Linked DNA regions of Homo sapiens: region 2 is linked to region 1. Evidence: fine-mapped expression QTL. A gene starts in region 1. The other region holds a variant in brackets. All regions are shown on one strand. Distances are from middle to middle.

Evidence for each region.
Region 2: its variant is fine-mapped to the expression of PRMT3 in whole blood (TOPMed, PIP 0.98).

The regions. Positions count from the first base shown.
Region 1 is chr11:20,380,112-20,392,266 of GRCh38, reverse strand. It overlaps PRMT3 (protein arginine methyltransferase 3), which reads right to left and starts at 4,551. Exons shown (of 16, transcript NM_005788.4): 1 at 4,493-4,551; 2 at 4,113-4,248; 3 at 2,441-2,523; 4 at 7-56. The coding sequence starts at 4,520. It overlaps HTATIP2 (HIV-1 Tat interactive protein 2), which reads right to left. Exons shown (of 5, transcript NM_001098522.2): 4 at 10,028-10,089; 5 at 8,485-9,287. The coding sequence ends at 9,062. RefSeq lists enhancers at 3,681-3,730, 3,586-4,192, 4,193-4,800, 4,674-4,843, 6,723-7,224 and silencers at 4,281-4,840, 7,157-7,357.
Region 2 is chr11:20,425,787-20,437,941 of GRCh38, reverse strand. It overlaps PRMT3 (protein arginine methyltransferase 3), which reads right to left. Exons shown (of 16, transcript NM_005788.4): 10 at 11,077-11,176. Among named protein-coding and RNA genes, the nearest start is that of PRMT3, 44 kb to the right of the region's middle. The variant T/C (reference allele first, on the strand shown) is at 5,624.

The sequences.
Region 1 (12,155 bases):
ACTTACCTTAAGTCTAATAAAATTTATTAGCTTAATGTATCCATAAAATTCAAGTCCTAAAGGGGGAAAAAGATAATTCACCTATGTTAACATAATGAGTTTTGTTTAACTGACCTATTCTATAAAGCCTTCTCTGATTAAACAATAAAATAATTCTGACCTCTAAATTACTACTTATATTTTGAATTTTATTAAGAATTAGAAGTAGTAATACAATGATACTTCTGAATATCTTGAGAAGCAGCCATAAATGACAAATTAAAGCTTTTCTAGTATTTCTAAAAAGATGGAAAACTGATTTCTAAAATTCTACTCCTCCTTTGTCAGAACAATACAAATCTGGAAAATTAAGATCCACATTTTACCAAGTATTTGGCAACTGATATCAGAGCTGAAAGTATTAAATCCCTAATTTTTATGGTGTGTATCAAATTATAATTTTGCCAGGACATGGTGTATACTAGCTTTTACATGAAGTTAAATGATGCAAGCCCAATAAGGCTTGTTATCTGGTTCTCGTATCTTTCCAGAAATGAAGCAGCATTTAAAACAAAGGAAAGCAGTAATACATCCAACCAACCAATTATTTGTCATAAAACTCTTGTTATGAGAAAACTTTAATAGTATACAAACCCCCTATATCGGTAAGTAAAAAAAAAACAAAACAAAATTCTATCTTAAGTATGATTCTAATACTTTAGAAATGCAACATTAAAAACATTAAGGCTGGGCACAGTGGCTCATGCCTGTAACCCCAGCACTTTGGGAGGCCAAGGCAGGCGGATCACCTGAGGTCGGGAGTTCCAGACCAGCCTGACCAACATGGAGAAACCCTGTCTCTCCTAAAATACAAAATTAGCCAGTGTGGTGGCGCATGCCTATAATCCCAGCTACTTGGGAGGCTGAGGCAGGAGAATCACTTGAACCCGGGAGGCGGAGGTTGCAGTGAGCCGAGATCGTGCCATTGCACTCCAGCCTGGGCAACAAGAGCGAGACTCCGTCTCAAAAAAAAAACAAAAACAAAAAACATTAAAAAATGAGGCTGTCATTTATGCCTTACGAAAGTACTTGCAGTTGAATTTATGATTTATAAACATGTGATATCACGTATTTATCTGACACTGAAACACCTGTTAGTATTTGCTATTCTTCAGTAATGTCCCTTCTTAGTTGTCAACAAATATAGGGACCAAAAAACCTATTATTTTTTTTTTTTTGAGACGGCGTCTCAGTCTGTCACCCAGGCTGTAGTGCAGTGGCATGATCTTAGCTCACTGCAACCTCCGCCTCCCGGGTTCAAGTAATTCTCCTGCCTCAGCCTCCCAAGTAGCTGGGACTACAGGCACATGCCACCATGCCCGACTAATTTTTTGTATTTTTAGTAGAGTTGGGTTTTCACTGGGTTAGCCAGGATGGTCTCGATCTCCTGACCTTGTGATCCATCCGCCTTGGCCTCCCAAAGGTTTTCACTGGGTTAGCCAGGATGGTCTCAATCTCTTGACCTTGTGATCCACCTGCCTTGGCCTCCCAAAGTGTTGGAATCACAGGCGTGAGCCACAGCACCTGGCCTATTTAGTTAATTTTATTGTAGTATAGCTCTTCTACATCCATTTAAAGTGGAAGGCCTTAATTGTAAGGCAAGTGTGTTTAAATAAAAGTTTCAATAGAAACATCACCTGAGTATTTTGCATATTAATCTTAACTTCATCACTCTTTTTCCAGTCTCTACCGAACTTTGTATAAAACTCAGTCTCGTAGGCTGTGAAGTTCATGTCATGCTTTGAGCTGATTGTCTTTTTTCAAATGACCTGCGTCCTTTTTCAAGTCCTACATCTACACTTGCTCTCCCTAAATCTAATATGTAATCACATAAAATGTAAAAATGTAATCACATGCCAAGTCTGTTTTTGTTTTTAGTTGAAAAGCTAATATAAGCTTAAATACAGTGAATCTTGTCTAGAAGAGTGACTTATTCATCTTTTCTCAAGGACCGCTTGTCAAAAAAACTCCATTTCCACAAGATGTTGCTGTGTGATTCGCCATATTAAACTCGTACAGAAAAGGGTCTGAAAAACTATAAAATCTGAACTTATATTTCACAGATTTTTTTTTTTTTTGAGAAGAGTCTCACTCTGTTGCCCAGGCTGGAGTGCAGTGATACCATCTCAGCTCACTGCCACCTCTGCCTCCCAGGTTTAAGCAATTCACCTGCCTCAGTCTTCTGAGCAGCTGCTATTACAGGTGTGCGTCACCACACCCAGATAACTTTTGTATTTTAGTACAGGTGGGGTTTCAGCATGTTGGCCAGGCTGGTCTTGAACTCCCGACCTAAAGTGATCCACCCACCTCAGCCTCCCAAAGTGCTGGGATTACAGGTGTGAGCTGCCATGCCTGCCCAAATTTCACAAATTAAATTGCCTTTATTCTAAAAACTACTCACCATGTTTATGAACCATGCTGTCAATATTAAACTGATGCTCAGACTTACAGTGTGAAAATGTTTCTTCAGCAGATGTGAATAACCTGAAAAATCAAGCAATAGCTTCATGGAATAGTCCCCTAAGAAGTCTAAATACTGATTTCATGTTACATATACACTTTTTTTTTTTTTTTAACTCTGCTGGTTTCTAGTTTTACTTCCAATTAAGAAAAAACAAACACACTTGTATCTGAAAGGAAGGGAATCCAGCACTTTTAAAGGGAATTAGTACTTCTGAGTCCCATTTTATACCTAAAACCAATTATCCTTTAAATGTCAAAGTGAATTTATTTGTCAAATAATATCACTGATTTTATCAAAAGGCTTTTAAGAGAGTTCCCTTTGATAGAGTCTGTTTCTCTCAAGTCATACAATTTCTCTACTTGAGATTCTTTTCTCCTCTAAGTGTCAACTCTGCTTTCAGAGGCTTTGAACTGGCACAGCTCAAACTGCTTTTAGAAATAAAGCATAAAATGTAATTTTACAGCTGGCATACTCCCCAAGTGCCTTATTTCAAAAGTGATCTTGTAGTATTCCCAACGTACTTGCATCACAGACACTGTGAGGATCAATCCTCTTTATTATGTGACATGCAAATCTGAAGGCTACTTAAAGACAGGAATACACAGCAGAGAAGCTGTATACCTTATCTATATTCCTAACACATGTGGAGCATTAGTTTTCCACAAATGTTTACCGAGATAGGTTATGTCGACTATTTATGGAGGCTATCACAGCCACGGTACCACTGGTGCTCAATAAATATTTTATGACAACTAGAATATATACAGGCATTCTATCTACCCAATGGGGCTACAGATGAGAACACTAACGCACCACCACTCAGCACCATGCCCAGATACAGGGAACACTGGAAAATGTATTAAAGTAACACCGGCCAATGCCAACCGGGCCTCTTTCATGCCTACTTGCCTAGGACAGGAGCCAAAGCTTCCCAAGACTAACAGGCAGAATTTTAAGTGGCAAGAATGTGAGTTTGGAAATAAGCACACCACAGCTTTGTGACCTTGAGCAAATTATTGATACTACAGTCTTTTTCCTTAAGTGAAAAGTCCTACTTAAGTAAGGTGAACTTCCTTCTTAGACTATGGAAACCGCTCAAATAAAAAAGAAATGTTTCACCTGAGAAGCTCTGTACTGGTCAAAGAATTAGCATGGTAAAGCCGGAAGGCTCCGTAGGGATTATCTAGTTCAGGGTGGCTGCCAAATATGTTACTCGTTAGTAGTAACTCGTTAGTAACTTCACTGTTACTTCCGATCTTGTCCTCATAAAAACAGAATATTCTTAGACCCCATCCCTGACTTGGAAGGATTCAGGTGCAGAGTTCAGTATCATTTTGTTTTCAGCGTCTCAAGTGACAAGATTTGGGAACCACAGATTCAATGCACTACCAGTCAAAAGCTTGCAGTACAACCGGCCTTCCAGTTCACGGTTCCCCCTCTCTACTACCGAGGGTCCTCCTTCTCCACAAGCCCTCACCCCAGACCAGTGGTTCCAGAATTCAAAGACAGGCCACTCTGGCTTGCCTCCCGCCCGAAGGCGTTCCTGGGCACACAGACCCCACGCGCCCGGGCACCCTAGGGCAGAGGCCAGGCGCTGAGGCGGACGAACCTGTTACAGAACAGGCAGGGGGTCTGCTGCTTGCCGTGGGGGAGATCTGCATCGTCCTCATCCTCCCAGGCGGCCTCGTCCCCGCTGTCCGACAGTTCTGGCAGGTCCTCCTCATTCTCCACAGCGCCCCGGCCGCCTAACACACACACACAACAATCAGATCGGCCTCGGACACCGGTGCGGCCCGGGGGCTCGAGGAGCAGGTGACGATGGGCTCTCCTCCGCCCCGTTCGCCCGCGGCCCTCACTCAGCACCTCCTTCATGATCCCTGCGAGCCCCCCACCCTGCCCGGGCCCGTGTCCCGGAGGGTCTTCCACCGGCCCCACAGCGGCGCGGCCTGGGGCTGGACGAGCCGGGTGCTGAGGGGCCAGGGTACCCACCGGTAGCGCCTGACGCTAACGAGCACATGGCTGTGGTGCCCCGAGAGCCCGGCGTGTCTGGGGGCGGGGACCGGGTTGGGCAACGAGCGCGCGCAGCGGCCGCCGACTCCAGGAACGAGCGCGAGCACAAGCGCGAACCCGCGGCGGGACCCGGGCTCCGGAAACTTCGCAGACCGCCGGGAACGCCGAAGCGCGCGCGCTGGCTCGCAATCGCTTCCGGCCTCGAGGCGCCGTGCGGGTCACGTGAGGTGGGGGCGGGGCGAGAGCGGGGGCTCCGCCTCCTCCTGCCGCAGGGTTGGCGCAGTGCGCGCTGAAGAGGCGCGCTGATGACGGTTAATGTTGCAGCCCGGAAGATGACTTTTGTCTCCTCCTTGGGTTGCGGCAGGCGTTAGTGGGAGGTCGCGGCCCGCTGCTGTGAGCCCCAAGGCAGAGAGACGTCGCTGCGGTTTTGGGGTTGGCATCCTGTCCTCTGTGCGCCCCTTTTTCCTGGGATGAGCGGTTAGCGGAGGGGCGATCGGCCCATGACGCCCTCTGGTGGCGGAGGAGGCCAAACGCTGGAGGCTCGGCTGGTTTCTGGGCTCCCAGGTCCTGGAGGGGGTGCAGCTGGCGAGAGGGAACGAACTGCATGGGCCAGGGTGGGTCTACTGCAGGGACAGATAGGTGTCAAACCCCCCAAGACGGATTTTAATCTTTGGTTAAGTGAGAACGTGAACTCTAGAGGCAGCCTGCTGGGTTTGAATCCTACCCACGTCACTTTGTAACTGTGATCTTGGGCAAGTTACTCGACCTCTCTCTGCCTCAGTTTCATCAAATACAAAACAAGGATAATAACTGCACTTGGGCAGGGCACGGTGGCTCACGTCTATAGTACCAGCACTTTGGGAGGCTGAGGCGGGCGGATCACCTGAGGTCAGGAGTTGGAGACCAGCCTGGCCAACATGGTGAAACCCTGTCCCTACTAAAAATACAAAAATTAACCAGGTGTGGTGGCACGCGCCTGCAATCCCAGCTACTTGGGAGGCTGAGGCAGGAGAATTGCTTGAGCCCGGGAGGCGGAGCTTGTGGTGAGCCGAGATTGTGCCACCGTACTCCAGCCTGGGCAACAGAGCAAGACTCCATCTTAAAAAAAAAAAAACAAAAAACAAAAAACCTGGACTAACTTCAGAACTACAGTAAGGATAAAACGAGTTAATACATGTAAAGTGCTCAGACATAACTATTTAAGCCAGGGAGTGATGCTCTCAGATGTGTTGAGAAAGTAACAATCTGGCTGCTGTGTGGGGAAGAACACAAATGTTCCCCTGCCTGCCTCATGCCACGTCCCTTTCTTCCTTTCCTTATATCTCTTCAAACCATAGAACTTTTTTTTGTTTGATTTTTGAGACGGAGTTTCGCTCTTGTTGCCCAGGCTGGAGTGCAATGGCACGATCTCAGGCTCACCGCAACCTCCACCTTCCGGGTTCAAGCGATTCTCTTGCCTCAGCCTCCCGAGTAGTTGGGATTACAGGCATGCGCCACCACGTCCGGCTGATTTTGGATTTTTAGTAGAGACAGGGTTTCTCCATGTTGGTCAGGCTGGTCTGGAACTCCCGACCTCAGGTGATCCACCTGCCCGCGAGCCACCGCCCGGCCCAGAATTCTTGCTTAGGAGGGAGTGCCCCAGGCTCTAGCAGAGTTTATCTAATTGGCCTATCAGGCCCTGCATAATCCTGCCTCTTTCCAATGGAACCCTTCACCTTGGGTCCCACCCTTAAGCCTTTTATTTACTGCTAATCATTGAATGTTCTACACATGGGTAGGTCCCTTTGGTCTCAACCAGAAACACTTTCCTCAGGCCATTTCTAAAATAGTTTCCACCATTATTTCAGGAGTATCCTGTTAGTTTCTTAGCACCCACCATTTGCTTACTTGATTTTTTTTTCTTTTTTGGTGATACCCCACAGCACTGAACAATAAGGGTAAGTAAGGGCCATGTCTCTTTACTTTCATTTCTCTGGCACATAATATGTGGCCTGGCCCATAGTATTAATAGATACTGAATGTATTCACTGAATAAAAATGATGCCTTATATTATTGCTAAATGTACTTCTAAATGTACTTTTCTCCCTTAATTGTAAATTCCTAGAGGACAGAATCCATTAAATATTAGTTTTTGTTTTTGTTTTTCTTTGAGACAGAGTCTCGCTCGGTTGCCCAGGCTGGAGTGCAGTGGTGCGATCTTGTCCCACTGCAACCTCCACCTCCCAGGTTCAAGCGATTCTCCTGCCTCAGCCTCCCAAGTAGCTGGGATTATAGGTGCTCACCACCATGCCTGGCTAATTTTTATATTTTTAGTAGTGACAGGGTTTCACCATGTTGGTCAGACTGGTCTTGAACTCCTGACCTCAAGTGATCTGCCCACCTCGGCTTCCCAAAGTCCTGAGATTACAGGCGTGATTGACCGCACCCGGCCCAAATATTAATTTTGAAGCTTTCTTACATCCTAGGACATTGCCAGAATAGCTGCTGGCTCTCTTGAGTTGGAGTCATCGTTCATGGATGCATCCCCAGTGCCTGTGTGCTCAGTGGCACATGAAAGGCACTGAATAAGCATTTGCTGAATGAATTAATGAACACTTGATTACCTGGGCCCATCCAACTTTTCCCTTCATCCTTCCAACATAAACTTTTTCTGTCTGTGTAACATTTGGTGGAAAACTTCCTGAATCCCTTAGTACTAAATGGAACACCCAGTCCATTCAGTGTTGACAATAAAACAAGTTAACACCCATTGTGGAGGAGTGATTGGGCCAGAGTCTTGTTCCTTAGTAAGTTCATATCTCACCACAATGCAGAGCTCAAGAGAGGGCTGCTTTTCTCTCTACTCCAAAGGTGAACACAGACCCTTCCTCATTATCCCACATCACTACTGAGACCAGAATAACATGTTGAATGAAACCTGCTCGAAGGTTTGTGAGTAAGGAAATAATATAAGGAGAATAACTTAAAACAGGCCACTGGGTTTAGCTGCTTTCAGAGCCCAGAGGCCTCAACATATCCTCGGCCCATGCTTTTTCACCATCAAAACAACACACTTAGGCTCTTCAAAGTCCAACTCCCAGGGAACCCCACCTGGCAGAAGGAAGATATTTCATTTCCTTTTAAAGCTCACATTTCAATATCCCACCCTGCCCTAAAATATGCCTCTTTTTTGGGTGACTGACACTGGGAATGTCTTCTCCCTTCTAAGGATATACACTCCAAATTAAGGAGAATGGCCTTTATCCTCCAGTGTATACTGAAGCTTGAAATGTACTTGGCATACAGTAGGCCTTGGAAGAATTGACTGAGTCCCTCGAATCACTTTGCTTCCCTGGTGCAGACGTTAAGACAAGTTACATTAACATCTTTTGTTCTATGATGGAAATTAGCAATGTATGTTCCTCTTGGCTTTGACCCTTCCTTCTGCATCTTCCTTTGCCTTAATTTTTAAAGTGCAGCAGCATGAGCACTTTAAAGTTTGGTGGCATAGAATTTTACTGGCTATGTGAACATTTAGTAATTAATCACTAGAACAAAGGAGAAACCCAAATATTTCGATTTTGTTCATCCACAACATGTAGTAACAATCAACTGGAACTACCTGGAAATATACGGGAACAGAATGCTTTTGCAGGGTGCTTAAAAACACGATATATGGGATCTATGGGATCAGGCAGACCTGGGTTAGAATCCTGACTCTGCCATTTCTTTGCTTCAGTTCTTCAGATTTGGACTCTTGAGCAAGGCACTTAACCACAGTGAGCCTCATTTCCCCATCTAAGACATGAAGATCATGATAGTATCACTTTATAAGGATTGTTTATAAGAGGGTTAAAGCACAGATAACACATGTAAAGACTGGTACTTAGCAAGCATTTGGTAAATATTAGCTGCTATTATATCACCCCATAGGCTGAAATGCTGCATATCACACTACATGGGCATTTTCAAGCAATCTAAGAGGCACCCAGGAGTTGTCCATTCATCTTTATTCCTTTATTTAATCCTCCCCATGTATTATATAAGCTTAGGTATATAACTTCTATTACATAAAGAAGTAGTAAAGGCACAATGTTTACTTACACAATTACATGTAGTGAATTAGCACTTTTGTAACTCAGAGACATGAATGTCAACAATTTTAGAGCAGAGCTCATTTGCACGGTCATAAGGTTTTCATGGCTGCTGTGACTCTGCAGACAAGCATTTCAAAGCAGGCCCCCCAGCCAGTGGCATCGGAACCAGTGGCATCAGGGGAAGTATAAACAAAGAAAATTACAGATTATTGTGCCCACACCCCAGAAATTTTGATTCAAGTTTGAGATAGGGCTGACAAATCTTTATTTTTCCAAAGCTCCCTGAGTGATCTATATGTATAACCAGGCTCTGAACCACTGATGCAGAGCACCATCATTTCTTGATTGGAATGGATGCCTGAGGATAGTAAAACAACAAAGTTAAAACATGCTGACTTTTTTTAGACCCTGAAATTACCGATTTGGTGATGGGTGTTAAGGTTGACAATAAAAACCATTTCTCCAATGTGGTCATGGCTTGAGAGAGCCATGCGCTTTCCCCAGGTCATGGATGGCCTTGTTCTCCAGCAGTTCCATCTGCTTGTCTCTTGGTCTCACCACATTGTTCAGCATTGCTCTAACCACGGTCACCACAGGCACAGAATGCCCACTGGCCCAAGAGTCTGGTAAGGAGCCAAAGAACTTTCTAACCAGCCATTCACCTGGGCGAGATTCTTGCCTATCACATAACAGAACTCTAAAATAAAAAAAAAAAAAAAAGAAAGAAAAGCAGAGGAAGAGGTGGTAAATTGCACTGAGACCACAGTGGGCATTACGGACAAAACTGTATCCCCTCAATATTCTAATGTTGAAGCCCTAATCCCCAAGGTGTCTATATTTGAAGATAAGGCATTAAGGGAAGTAATTAAGTTTAATGAGGTCTTAAGGATGGAATAGGACTAGTGTGATGGGACTGGGGTCCTCATAAGAGGAAGAGACATCAGAGGTCTCTCTCTGTCTGCATACACTAAGAAGAAAGGCCATGTGAGGACACTGCCAGAAGGTGGTCTGTCTGCCAGCCAGGAAAAGAGGCCTCACCGGACACCAACCCTGAGGGCACCTTGATCTTGGACTTCCAATCTCCAGACTGCGTGAAAAAAAATTTCTGTTGTTTAAGACACCCAATCTGTGTGGTATTCTGTTATGGCAACCCAAGCAGACTAATACAGTAGACGTAAGGTTTTATTTGGCACATGAAGAGGATTTAAGAAGGCAGCAAATGCTGTCCAGGAAGTTCCAGACTATTCTGAAGCAGGCCCCACCATCTACCCTTTCTTTCTAAGCAAAAAGGTGTGTCCTTCAGAGAAGCAATCTACCTCTAGCCAATGTCTTTCATATCTTAGATATTTCAGCTGTCAGCCTTTCCAAATGAAAAATTAGTATCTAGGGATTAACCATCAGTGGCATACTCTCATTCAGTATAAATATTATACTTACCCAGGCCTAAATACAGAGTAACGATCAAATTTTAATTCTTCAACCTTGGCTTCTACTTCTCCCTATTAAGAAAAAACACATTTTCAGTATTTAATCGCGACCAGCTCACCTGTGTGAAGTTTAAGAGAGAATAATTTGTGGTTTTGAGATAATCTGCTTTTGCAGATCTCAATACTCAAAATATCCTTATCTAGAATTTTAGGTTCCAAGGAGTCTGGGAAATTAAGGAAGAGATCATTTAATCCTGATGTGTAGTCTTTCATTTAAAAGATCCACTAAATGAGTGAATGGCTGCATAGTCAGTCCTCTCACTTTATTGATATTAAAACAGATTCAGAGAGGGTAAGTCATACGTTAGTACAATCATAAAAGAATATCCTCTATTTAGTCCAGAATTCATGTTGCATGCTAGCAGACACTAACGTTTTTTTGGTTTATAGGTAGTTCCAGTGGGTCAGAAAACCATAGACCCACTATATTACTCACTTCTTAAACCTCACAAAATTTTAAGACAGATTACATCTAGATGATGCTTTAAATCTAATTTGTTAAATAAAGCATGCATTTTCATGGCAGGCATCTCTGGAAACAAAATGCCTGAGGAGCTCAGCCCACAGGCACTTCCAAAGGCCTGTGAACTACCACACGGTCATGCACGCCTCCTTCTTGGCCTGTGTGTACCACTCAATTGGCACTTAACCTGTCTCATCACAGACATTTAAGTAGCTATTTTTAAATATCTTTTTCTTTTTAAAAATTTTTTAATTTTAATTATTTATTTATTTATGTATTTTTTGTGTGTGATAGAGTCTCACCATGTCACCTAGGCTGAAGTGCAAGGGCATGATCTTGGCTCACTGCAACTTCCACCTCCCAGGTTCAAGCAATTCTCCTGCCTCGGCCTCCCAAGTAGCTGGGATTACAGGCATCCGCCATTATGCCTGGCTAATTTTTGTATTTTTAGTAGTGACGGGGTTGTCACCATGTTGACCAGGCTGGTCTCGAACTCCTGACCTCAAGTGATCCACCCGCCTCAGCCTCCCAAAGTGCTGGGATTACAGGCGAGAGCCACCGCGCTTGGCCATTCTTTTTTTTTTAATAGGTGGTTTTTAGTATATACACAGAACTCTGTAACCTTCATCACGATCTAAGTTTTAAAATATTTCATCACCCTGAAAAGAAATCCCATATCATTAGCAGTCACTCCTCGTACCCTACCCTCTGGGGACCTAGTCAACCACTAATGTACCTTCTATCTCTATAGATTTGCCTATTCTGGACATTTCATATAAATGAAATCATATAATTCGTGGTCTTTTGTGACTGTCTCCTCACACTTAGCATAATATTTTCAAGGTTCACCCATGTTGTAGTATGTATCATTTCTTTTTATAGCTGAATAATATTCTATTGCATGAATATATCACATTTTATTCATCTATTCATCAGTCGATGGCTATCTAGGTTGTTCCCACTCTTTGGCCATTATAAATAATGCTGCTATGAACAGTCATACACAAGATTTTATGTGTACACACATTTCTTAGCTTTTTTTTTTTTTTTTTTTTGAGATGGAGTCTCACTCTGTCGCCCAGGCTGGAGTGCAGTGGCGCAATCTCAGCTCACTGCAAGCTCCGCCTCCCGGGTTCATGCCGTTCTCCTGCCTCAGCCTCCCGAGCAGCTGGGACTACAGGCACCTGCCATCACGCCCGGCTAATTTTTTGTATTTTTAGTAGAGACGGGGTTTCACCGTGTTAGCCAGGATGGTCTCAATCTCCTGACCTCGTGATCCGCCCGCCTCGGCCTCCCAAAGCGCTGGGATTACAGGCGTGAGCCACCGCGCCCAGCCCATTTCTTAGCTTTTTAAAAGATTTGTTTTGTCTCTATTAGCAGTGTGCATAAAAGAGATACCATAGCAGGCTGAGACTGCTATCCTTAGAAAGGCCTGTTACAAGTTTGGCCCCTGGCTTGTGCTTGCAACCTTGGATTTTCGGTGTGTTCCCACCATTCCCTATCTGATAAGGGTCATGTACTATGCCTAAACTGTCTGTACAAACAATGTGGTTTATGCTGAAAACTTGCCTTTCTTCTGGAGGGCTGCAATTTGGCTAGGCCAATGTGCCTATGT
Region 2 (12,155 bases), 46 kb before region 1:
TGAGGATCTCCCAAACTGCTGCAACTGAGTACCTTAAAAACTATGCTGCTGCCGGCCGGGCGCAGTGGCTCACGCCTGTAATCCCAGCACTTTGGGAGGCCGAGGCGGGCGGATCACGAGGTCAGGAGATTGAGACCATCCTGGCTAACATGGTGAAACCCTGTCTCTACTAAAAATGCAAAAAATTAGCCGGGCATGGTGGCGAGTGCTTGTAGTCCCAGCTACTCGGGAGGCTGAGGCAGGAGAATGGCATGAACCAGGGAGGCGGAGCTTGCATTGAGCCGAGATCGCACCACTGCACTCCAGCCTGGGCAACAGAGCGAGACTCCGTCTCAAAAATAACAACAAAAAAAACTATGCTGCTGCCACCACTGCCACAAACTTCTACAGCCTATACCACTGAGTCACTCATATTATTGCTGATGTTGAACACAGGTCAAGAAGCTGCAAAGAGACTATACCACTGCACCTATCTGGAAACATACTCACCACACCATTCCCAACTGGAACACTAATCTTTCCCTTTGCAACACTAGGAAGTCTAGAAAAGGCAACTGCTCCACCAGATGTCTACATCAAAAAAGTTGAATGATTTCAAATACAAAACCTAATGATGCATCTCAAACAACTAGAAAAGCAAAGTAGAAGGAAAGAAATAACAAAGGTCAGAGCAGAAATGAACAAAATTGAGACTTAAAAAATACAAAAGATCAATAAGAAAACCTGGTTTTTAAAAAAGATAAGCAAAATTGACACACCATTAGCTAGACTAACCAAGAAAAAAAAAGAGAAAACACCAAAATAAATAAAATCAGAAACAAAGAGACATTAAAATAGATACCATAGAATTATAAATGTTTATTAGAGACTATGATGAACAACTATATGCTAACAAATTGGAAAACCTAGAGGAAATGGATACATTCCTGGACACATACAACCTACCAAGATTGAACCAGGAATAGAAAATCTGAACAGAACACAAGTAACTAGATTGAATCTGTAATAAAAAGTCTATCAAAGAAAAATTCAGGACCCGATGCTTTCACTGCTAAATTGTACCAAACCCTTAAAGAACTAACACCGATTACTCTCAAACTCTTCCAGAAAATCAAGAGGGGGGATTTCTTCCAAACTCATTCTATGAGGTTAGCATTATATAGATAACAAAATCAGTTAAAGACACTATTAAAAAAAAAAACAAACTGCAGGCCAATATCCCAGATGAACACAGATGTAAAAGTCCTTAACAAAATACAAGCAAACTAAATCTTGTGGCACATCAGAAGATCACTTGCCATGATCAAGTGGGATTCATCCCAGATATGCAAGGATGACAAAATGTACACAAGTCAATAAACATGATACTTCAACAAAATGAAGGACAAAAGCCATATGATCATCTCAAAAGACACAGAGAAGCATCTGATAAAATTCAACATCCCTTCATGATAAATACTCTCAACAAGTTAGGCATAGAAGGAACGTACCTAACACAATACAGGCCATCAATGACAAACCCACAACCAACAACATACTGAATGGGGACAAGTTCAAACCATTTCCTCTTAGATATGGAATAAGATGAGGATGTCCACTTTCACCACTTTTATTCAACATAATACTAGCCAGAGCAATCAGGCAAGAGAAAGAAATAAAGGACATCCAAATTGGAAAGAAGGGAGACAAATTGTTCCTGTTTGAAGACGACATGATCTTATACAGAAAATCTAAAAACCTCTTAGAGCTGACAAACACATTCAATAAAGCTGAATGATACAAAATCAATATTCAAAAATCAGTAGCATTTCTATACCCAGGGGAAGTAATAAAGAAATCAAGAAAGCAATCCCATTTATATAACTACAGTAAAATAAAATACTTAGGAATAACTTTAAACAAAGAGTTGAAAGATCTCTACAATGAAAACTACAAAATACTGATGAAAGAAATTGAAGGGAACACACCAAAAATGGAAAGTGATCCCATGCTTATGAATTGGAAGAATTAATACTGTTGAAATAACCATACTGGCCAAAGTGATTTACAGATTCAGTGTAACAAAATACCAATGACATTCTTCGTAGAAATAAACAACCCTAAAACTTGCATGAAACCACAAAAGATCCTGAATAGCCAAAGTGATCCTGAGCAAAAACGGCAAAGCTGGAGGCATCACAATTCCTGATGTCAACAACCTATAGTAACCAAAACAGCATGATATTGGCATAAAAGCAGACACATAGACCAAAATAACTGAATAGAGAACCCAGAAATAAATCCATGCATTTACAGCCAACCGATTTTTGGCAAAGGTACCAAAAACATTTATTGGAGAAGGGACAGTCTCTTCAATTGTTGAGAAGAATGGATATCCATATGCAAACAAACAAACAAACAAAAATCAAACTAGATCCCTATCTCCTACCATATACAAAAATCAACTAAAAATGGTCTGAGCGCGGTAATCCTAGTACTTTGGGAGGCTGACGTGGGTGGCTGGCTTAAGCCCAGGAGTTCAAGACCATCCTGGGCAATATGGCAAAACCCCATCTCTACTGAAAACACAAAAATTAGCTGGGTATAGTGGCGCACACCTGTAGTCCCAGCTCCTCAGGATACTGGGGTGGAAGGATTGCTTGAGCCCAGGAGGCAGAGGTTGCGGTGAGCTGAGATGGTGCCACTGCACTCCAGCCTGGGCGACAGAAAATAAATGAATTAAAAAAATATCAACTAAAAATGGATTAAATATTTAAATGTAAGGCTTTAGATTATTAAACTAATAGAAGAAAACATAGGGGAAACGCTTCAGGACATTAGTCTGGGCAAAGATTTTGTGGAGATGATCTCAAAAGCACAAACAACAAAAGCAAAAACAGACAAATGGGATTATACCAAATTAAATAGCTTTTACAAAAAAATCCCATGCAGATGAGTAGAAGGATCAATATCATTGAAATGGTCACACTGCCCAAAGCAATGTATAGATTCAATGTTATTCCTATCAAACTACCAATGACATTCTTCACAGAACTAGGAAAAACTATTTTAAAATTCATATGGAACCAAAAAACAGTCCAAATAACCAAGGCAATCCTAAGCAAATAGAACAAAACTGGAGGTTTCACATTTCCCAACTTCAAACTATACCACAGGGCTACAGTAATAAAAACAGCACAGTACTGGTACAAAAACAGACACATAGACCAATGGAACAGAACAGCGGACCCAGAAATAAAGCCACACACCCACAACCTTCAATCGGATTGAAGATCACAATCTAATCTTCAACAAAGCTGACAAAAACAAGCAATGAGGAAAGGACTCCCTATTCACTAAATGGTGCTGGGATAACTGCCTAGCTATATGCAGAAGACTGAAATTAGACCCCTTCCTTTCAACTCAAGATGGGCTAAAGACTTAAATGTAAAACCCAAAACTATAAAAACCCCGAAAGACAACCTAGGCAATACCATCCTGGACATAGGAACAGGCAAAGATTTCATGACAAAGATGCCAAAAGCAATTGCAACAAAAGCAAAAACTGACAAATAGGGTTTAATTAAACTAAAGAGCTTCTGCACAGCAAAAGAAACCATCAACAGAGTAAACAGACAACCCTTAGAATGCAAGAAAATATTTGCAAACTATGCATCTGACAAAGGTCTAATAACCAGCATCTATAAGGAATTTAAACAAATTTATACAAAAAGCAAACAACCCCATTAAAAGGTGGGCAAAGGACATGAAGAGACACTTTTCTAAAGAGGACATGCATGTGGCCAACAAGCATATGAAGAAAAGCTCAATATCACTGATCATTAGAGAAATGAACATCAAAATCACAATGAGATACCATCTCACACCAGTCAGAATGGCTATTATTAAAAAGTGAAAAAATAACGGTGCTGGCAAGATTGAGGCGAAAAGGCAACACTTAAACACTGTCTGAGTGTCAATTAGGTCAAACATTGTGGAAAGCAGTATGGTAATTCCTCAAAGAGCTAAAAACAGAACTACCAGGCCAGGTGTGGTGGTGCACGCCTATAATCCCAGCACTTTGGGAAGCCGAGGTGGGCAGATCACTTGAAGTCAGCAGTTCAAGACCAGCCTGGCCAACATGGTGAAACCTCATCTCTACCAAAAATACAAAAATTAGCCAGCACGGCGGTACATGTCTGTAGTCCCAGCTACTCTGGAGGCCGAGGTTGGAGAATTGCTTGAACCTGGGGGGTGGAGGTTGCAGTGAGACAAGACTGCACCACTGCACTCCAGCCTGGGAGACAGAGTGAGACCCTATCTTAAAAAAAACAAAAACAAAACAAAACAGAACTACCTTGTGACCCAACAATTCCATTACTGGGTATATACCCAGAGAAATAAAAATCATTCTACCATAAAGAGCAAGATGCACATGAATGTTCATTGCAGCATTATTCACAATAACAAAGATACGGAATTGGAATCAACCTAAACATCCATCAGTGACAGAGTGGATAAAGAAAATGGTGTCACAGATACACCATAGAATACTATTGCAGCCATAAAAAAGAATGAGATCATGTCTTTTGTGGGAACATGGATGGAGCTGGAGGCCATTATCTTTAGCAAACTAATACAGCAACAGAAAACCAAATACCACATGTTCTCACTTATAAGTGGGAGCTAAATGATGAGAACTCACGAATACGAGAAGGGAACAACAGACACTGGGGCCTACTTGAGGGTAGAGGTTGGGAGAAGGGAGATGAGTAAAAAAAAAATAACTATTGGGTACTAGGCTTAGTACCTAGGTGATGAAATAATTTGTACAACAAACCCCCATGGCACAAGTTATTACCTAAATAACAAACCTGTATATGTATTCCCAGATCTGAAAGAAAAAAAAAGCCACTAAAAAAGTAAATAAAGTTTCTGCACAGAAAAGAAAACAAAAGAGTAAAGAGATAATCTGCAGAATGGGAGAAAATATTTGCAAATTATTTATCCAGTAAGAGATTAATATCCAGAATATATAAAGAGCTCAACAGCAAAAACCCAAATAATCTGATCAAAAATGGGCAAATAAACTGAATAGACATCTCTCAAAAGAAGACATATAAAAGGCCAGCAGGTATATTAAAAAATGCTCAACATTACTAACCATCAGGAAAATGCAAACAAATTATAATGTGATATTATTTCATGCCAGTTAGAACGGCTGTTATCAAAAAGACAAAATAAGGATGCAAGGATGCAGAGAAGGAGAATTCTTATACACTGTTGGTAAGAATATAAATTAGTACAGCCATTATGAAAAAGAGTATAGAGGTTCCCCAAAAAACTAAAAATAGAACTATTATATGATCCAACAATCACACTACCGGGTATACATATTCAAAAGAAAGGAAAACAGAATGTCAAAGAAATGTCTGTACTCCCACATTTATAACAGCACTATTCACAATAGCCAAGATACAGAATCAACCTAAGTGTCTATTAAGAGTTGAATGGACAAAAAAAATGTGACATATATACACAATATACAGTTTATAGGAGACAATTTGTATTTATAATAAATGCTTATGTGCCTACAAATGTAAGCTGTAAATTTGAAGGGTTTACTTTTACTCCCAGGTAGAAG[T/C]AAACAGTATTACTGATAAAATATTTTTAAGTTGTTATACAATTTTAGAGTTTAAAATAAAAATTAACAAATATTTTGTGTTCTCTGAGGGATTACCTGAAAAATGTTTGTAAGGGCAGTTGATTCATGTTCCTGAATAACTTAACCTTTTAATATTCATGATTAGAATACTTTGTCACTTATCGAAGATTGAATAAAAGAAAGGCTAGGAAGTGGTTAAGAGCACAGACAAGAACAAAAATATAGATTATAAGACCAAAATAATTATACACAAGGGACCTATTACATTTCTATTCCCTTTGCTTTCATTTTATTCTTGATTCAGATGTTAGCATATCTATGAAAAAATATGAACCACAACTTTTCTTTCATTGTTCAAGTACTATAAATATCTCCCTGTTAATACTTAACAGTACTAGAAAACAGTACTGCGGAATGGGAATTTTATATTTTATCTAAAATTATTAGGCATTGTCAGCACTGCCTAAAAATTGTTTCCAAGGCAGCAAACTGAGAATTATGCTTGAAATATACATAAAGTACATTTTGATTCAACTAACATTAAGAAAAATACCAAGAATACCCCAAATCCCAATAACTCACATCCATCAGCTTACTTTCATACTTCTGTATACCAACCACAGACAGTCAATTAGTAAATGCTAGACATGGAAAGAGAAAGTCTTCCGCTTTTACAAAGGGCTTTAAGCAAGGGAGAAGCCCTAAGAATGTTCTTCCTCCAAGAATTAATATTCTTTATTTCATGTATATGATTATTTTCAACTGTTATTTATTGAATTAGCTAGTGTAGTAGCTCGCTCATGAGTTACAGAGTACTTAAAAGTTTGTATAACTTTCAAAACTGAATACCTAAGTTATTGAGATCTTATGTGCCAGAAACTGTTCTAAGAAATTTGCATGTATTAACTCATTTAATCCTCACAAAAAAACCTTATGAAGTAGGTAATACTGTTATTTTCATTTTATAGAGAAGGAAACTGAGGCACAGAGAGGTAACATGCCCAAGAATGGAGGTAGTTTGCCTCTGGAGCAACATTCTTAACCCTGTCATATACTATATCTCCATGCCTTCATGTATTGTACATAAAATTATAAATGTCTGAGGCCAGCGAATTTCTGTTTGGGAACGTTCTCTTACAATTTTACAATTCACATTCCGTCATCATTTACTAATGCTAAGCCTCGTGGACTTAGTCTATGTGTTTGCAAAGTTATGCTGAAAACATAGAGGAAATATAGCAACACCAAATGAGTCAATTTGGCTTACTGAGTCGGAATTAGGGATGCTTATTTTGAACAGTTTTATTAAGTAGGCAGAAATAAGAAGCAATAAAGAACAGCTCTCAAAACAAGAACTTCTATTGGTAGACTAAAATGTAAAAAATGAGGACACATACACAAAGACATAGGTATTAACATCTTCCAGGGATTAAACTGTTTACATTTAACTGAAACAATTTTGTCAAACAGAAATTCCATCTGATAAAAATGAAAATGTAGAGCATGATGACTACAGTTAGTAATATTGTATTGTATATGAAAAATTTCCTAAGAGAATAGATTTTAGGTGCTCTTATTACATACAGAAAGACAGGTAAGTATGTGAGATGACAGACATGTTAATTTGACAGCAGTAATAATCTCACTGTGTAAATCAAAACATCATGTTGTACACCTTAAATATATAAAATAAAAAGAAAACTTCTCTTAAATAAAAACAAAAATGAAAATATAAAATTAAAGGCAAGCCTAGAACTGGAAATTTGTTAATGCAAGCCAAGTGATTGTTTATTAAATAACATGCTAACAGCAATAATTTAGCTTTTAAAATTACATTCTTATCTAGAAAAATCTTCCAAAATAAAGACAAAAATTCATGAACAGGTGCAGACTAGAAACATATTTAGATTAAGCCATGGAATAGTTAGTGGACCACAGTAGAAGAAAACATGTACATCTCTGCTATATGATTTCTACACTGCTATACCGGATTACACATCCATTAAACATCTGTGCCCAATTCTGGAGGGTATATTCTATTTTTGTCTTTCCTTGTTGAAAATACTTGTAAAAAGAGAAAAAAAATGCTTAACTATGGTTCATTCTAGATTTTTGCATCTTTATTATGTTGTATGTAAAAAATAAAATAAATAAAGACAGGAGTCTGTGCAATTTAAGTTTAAAATGCTGGTTCATGAAAATGTGGCTACAGATTTAAAATAGTTGTTTACCATTTGCCTACTGTTTCAGCCAATGCGCCTGAAACATGGAGGATAAAGTTTAGAAAGCATACCTGCCCTTTGTTTAATTATGTAATTGATGTTTTCCAGCTTCTCAAATCAAAAATCCTAATGAAAGTACCAAATAAAGTTAGGGACTTCTAGGATTTAGAAGATACCATAAATGATATTTCCAATCCACAAAGATGATTGAAAATAATTTAGCACAAGCCTTCTTAAGCCTTAAATGCAAATTTCACCAGAGAAATAAGGCCATCCAGAGCTGACTGCCATAGAATAACTGCTGTAAGTTTAGTGTCCAATGCCCCACCTAGAGCACTTAAAACAGTTGCTAGACTTCAACTCACTTAAAACAAGGAAAGGCAGACAGTGAGATAATACAAATGCTTAAGTAACACCTTTGTGGTGAGGAAGAAGAAAAGTTCTTAGTTATCCCTTCCTGAATACACTGATTTGTTTTTCATTACTGGTTTCGAAGAACCTTGGCTTCCAAACAACTGGCTCCTTTCATCTCAGGCTCCAGTGACTCCAGTGACTGCCTTCCTGATGAAGAGAGAGGTCTTACCTGACCAACGCTCTGAAGTGAAAGGTGTTCTTTATTTCAGTTAGAGCAAGTCCCCAGCCCCCAAGCCAGGGATGGGTACTGGTCCGTGGCCTGTTAGGAACTGGACTACACAGCAAGAGGTGAGTGGCAGGCCAGCATTACCACCTGAGCTCCGCCTCCTGTCAGATCAGCAGTGGCATTAGATTCTCACAGGAGCGTGAACCCTATTGTGAACTGCCCAAGTGAAGGATCTAGACTGTATGCTCCTGATGAGAATCTAATGATGTGAGATGGAACAGTTTTATCCTGAAACCATCCCATCCCCATCCCCCAATCCATGGGAAAACTGTCTTCCATGAAACTGGACCCTGGTGCCAAGAAGTCTAGGGACTGCTGAGTTACAAGCACAAACTAGGAAAAGAGAAACCACAAAAGCTATTTAAAATAGAGGAAATTTAATGTCAAAAGTCACTTATACAGAGGATAAAAGATATGAGCAGTCATCAAGAGAGTGAGACAACCAGACTTGACAATGCCCACAAGTAACTAGCATTCCTAGGCTACTGCTACAAGAACCCAGGGCTGGGGTTGCACAGTGGATGCTGGAATTTCAGCATGCCTGTTCGGTGGGAAGTGGAACCACAAAAGAAATAGCTTTTGCCAGCAACACACTAGAGATAAAGTAAGAAGGGAAGAAATGCCCTGGCTTCTCCCTTTCTTAAATCTTGGGAGATTTAGTGTTTCTAGTGTTTCCCATTGGGTTCCCCAAACTCAGCAGAAGTTAGCCATCATAGGAGCTTGGTAAAGGCAGCCTGCAGGGTTAGCCCTCCTTGGTACAGAAGAAAGCAGAAGGGTACAAAATGGATTCCAGTACAACTTTCAATAAAGTTCACATCATAAAGACAATCTCATGAATTCATTCAATCCAGCTAACTGCAGTTATTAAACCAGCTGGCTCTAAGATATCAATTGCCTATTAATAATTCTAGATCATCTTTCAGATTTGGAAGTGAAAAATCCTAGAACATCAATATCCAGCAGTATAATTCTGCTAGGCAGAGCAAGAACTATCCCATTAGTTATTGTAATCAGATATATAATAATGTTCAACTGAGGTAACAGGAAGTTTGGACAAGTCTTTCTTTTGGTTTGCCTATAAAGTCTATTTTGGAGTAATTTAAAAGATGCATTTTCTAAGAAGAGTAAAATATACAGCATAAACTATTTAAAATTCTTGTCTATATGCCTCAAATGTGCTTTCTCAGAAGCATCTTTTCATAGTCTTTAAAGAAATATTACATTTTTAATTCATATCTACTCTTTCAATTCATGAGAAATCAGAGTGCTGATACAAATTCTTTGGTGTGAGAATACTGATATTGTGACTAAAGGTTGTTTAAGGCCAATCTTAGCATTAAAAAAAAAATCAACATACTGTTTCACATACAAAATAGTAACTGTCAACAACTGTGACTGTCATCAGCTCTAGACTGGAACTCCCTACACTACTACATTAAATCTGAATATTCCAAAAGTTCCTTGAAACATCTATTTCACTAGGATTATAACTATGTTTATTCAAAATTTATAAAAAATTATAAAGCAAAACTCAATGTTTTCAAAATTTTTTGATAAATTTTATGAAAATATATCTACCAAACAGAACTTTAAGGAAAAAAATTATTTCAAAATAATTTAAAAATCTTTATTAGAAACACTATCCAGTTTATTTCTGTCAAATTGACATATCAGTAAGTCAAATCAGCTGTCAAATACATTTTTTTTTTCGAGGTGGAGTCTCGCTCTGTCACCCAGGTTGGGGTGCAGTGGCGTGATCCTGGCTCACTGCAACCTCCAACCTCCTGGGTTCAAGCCACTCTCCTGCCTCAGCCTCCCAAGTGGCTGGGATTACAGGTGCCTGCCACTACGCCCAGCTAATCTTTGTATTTTTAGTAGAGATGGGGTTTCATCACGTTGGCCAGGCTGGTCTCAAACTCCTGACCTCAGGTGATCCACCTGCCTCAGCCTCCCAAAGTGCTGGGATTAAAGGTGTGAGCCACCATACCCAGACTCCATTAATTTTATTTCCATATATTTAAAAATAAACATTCTGTCTTGACAAAAGATTTCAACAGCAAATTATAAAGCTATGTAACATACCTTCCTTTTAATATTTCAGTAACAGCAATAAATTCTATTTTATGTGATAATGGACATTGATTACATGGCCCAACAGATTAGAAAGATAGGACATTCAGTATGATAATGGTGGCAATATCATGTTAATTTTGATGAAACAGTCCTAATGAGTTCTTATTAGTCCCTGGAGGCTTTCAGGCAAACACTTAGGTATCTAAAACTTAGAAAGTAGAAAAATAATTTATCAGGACTTTTAAGATAAAAAAGATAATTTATCACTTTTTAAAGATTATGAATAGCCAATAAATAAGGGCCATTTCAGAATAAACTACAGTAAGAAGACTGTAGCTATTTTTTTAAATTACACATTATAGTATCTAATGTAGCTACTTAAAAAATAATGTCACCATTCTGCCATGTATCAAATATAATTAAATTCATGAAAACTATTACTTTAAAAAAGTTTTTTCATTTTACCAGTGAAAGTAGTTTTTTCTATAAACACTCACCATCCACTCAGATATGATAACATCTACTTTTTCTACAGGAAGATGAACTTCTTCAATCTTTCCTTTAATTAGTGTAATAGTATCTTCAAGTTTATTTAGTCTGAAAATTATAATGAATTAGATTAGTAGGTTAAACAGATTCTGAAAGCTAGTTAAATTACATAATTTTTTGCCAACAACTCGTATTGTTTTGTGGGACAAAAAAGTATTTCAATCAAAGCTTAGTTGTTCTTTGGACATTGTAATTATTTTATGGTTACTCCATGCATGCCCAAAGATGTTTGTGGTTAATATGGCAATACAGTGAACCAATATTTAAAATCTGAGTTTGAAAAGAAATCCAAATTTTATCAAGAATAACATGTCAATGAAGTTACATGTCTTTAAAACAAACAACACAGTGGTGAAGACAGACATATAAGACATATAAAAGTATGGTTTAAAGGGAAGTGTTGTGTCTGTCATAGGGGTGAGAGAATTTGAAGCCCCAAGCCCATAATTTAACCCCCAGATTCTCTAGCATTTGTCAGCTATGTGATCTTCACCAAATTTTTAAGTAATTTCGTTGAGCCTGTGCTACTCCTGTGTAAAAGAGAATAATACCGACCCTATTTACGTCACAGGCTATTAAGAGGATCAAATACTTGTGAAAGCTATACATGTATCTATAAACAATGACACTATCATCAACAACAAAACATTAAGTGTTAAAACCTGAAATCTTATCACTATCAAAAATTAACCTTGACCAGTGGCACTCATTAGATGTTCTTATACACTTGATCATAAGATTAGCAATATTTCCCCTTCTTCTGTAATATGAAACAACAGTTATTTTCACAAAGGTGAATGTAAGCTGCTGGTTAAGTTTACATCTGATTAATAAATTCTCAATTCTCAGAATGTACATTGTAACTATAGAGGATTTTTTTCCTGCATCAAAGAAGAAATTGTACCCCTTAACTTCATTGGGTATTATTTACAAACAATTCAGTGCATTCATTTTAGGGTAGTTTTGTTAAATTCCGAAAAACAGATACTTTGTTGACCACCACAATCAATATATAGAACATTTCCTC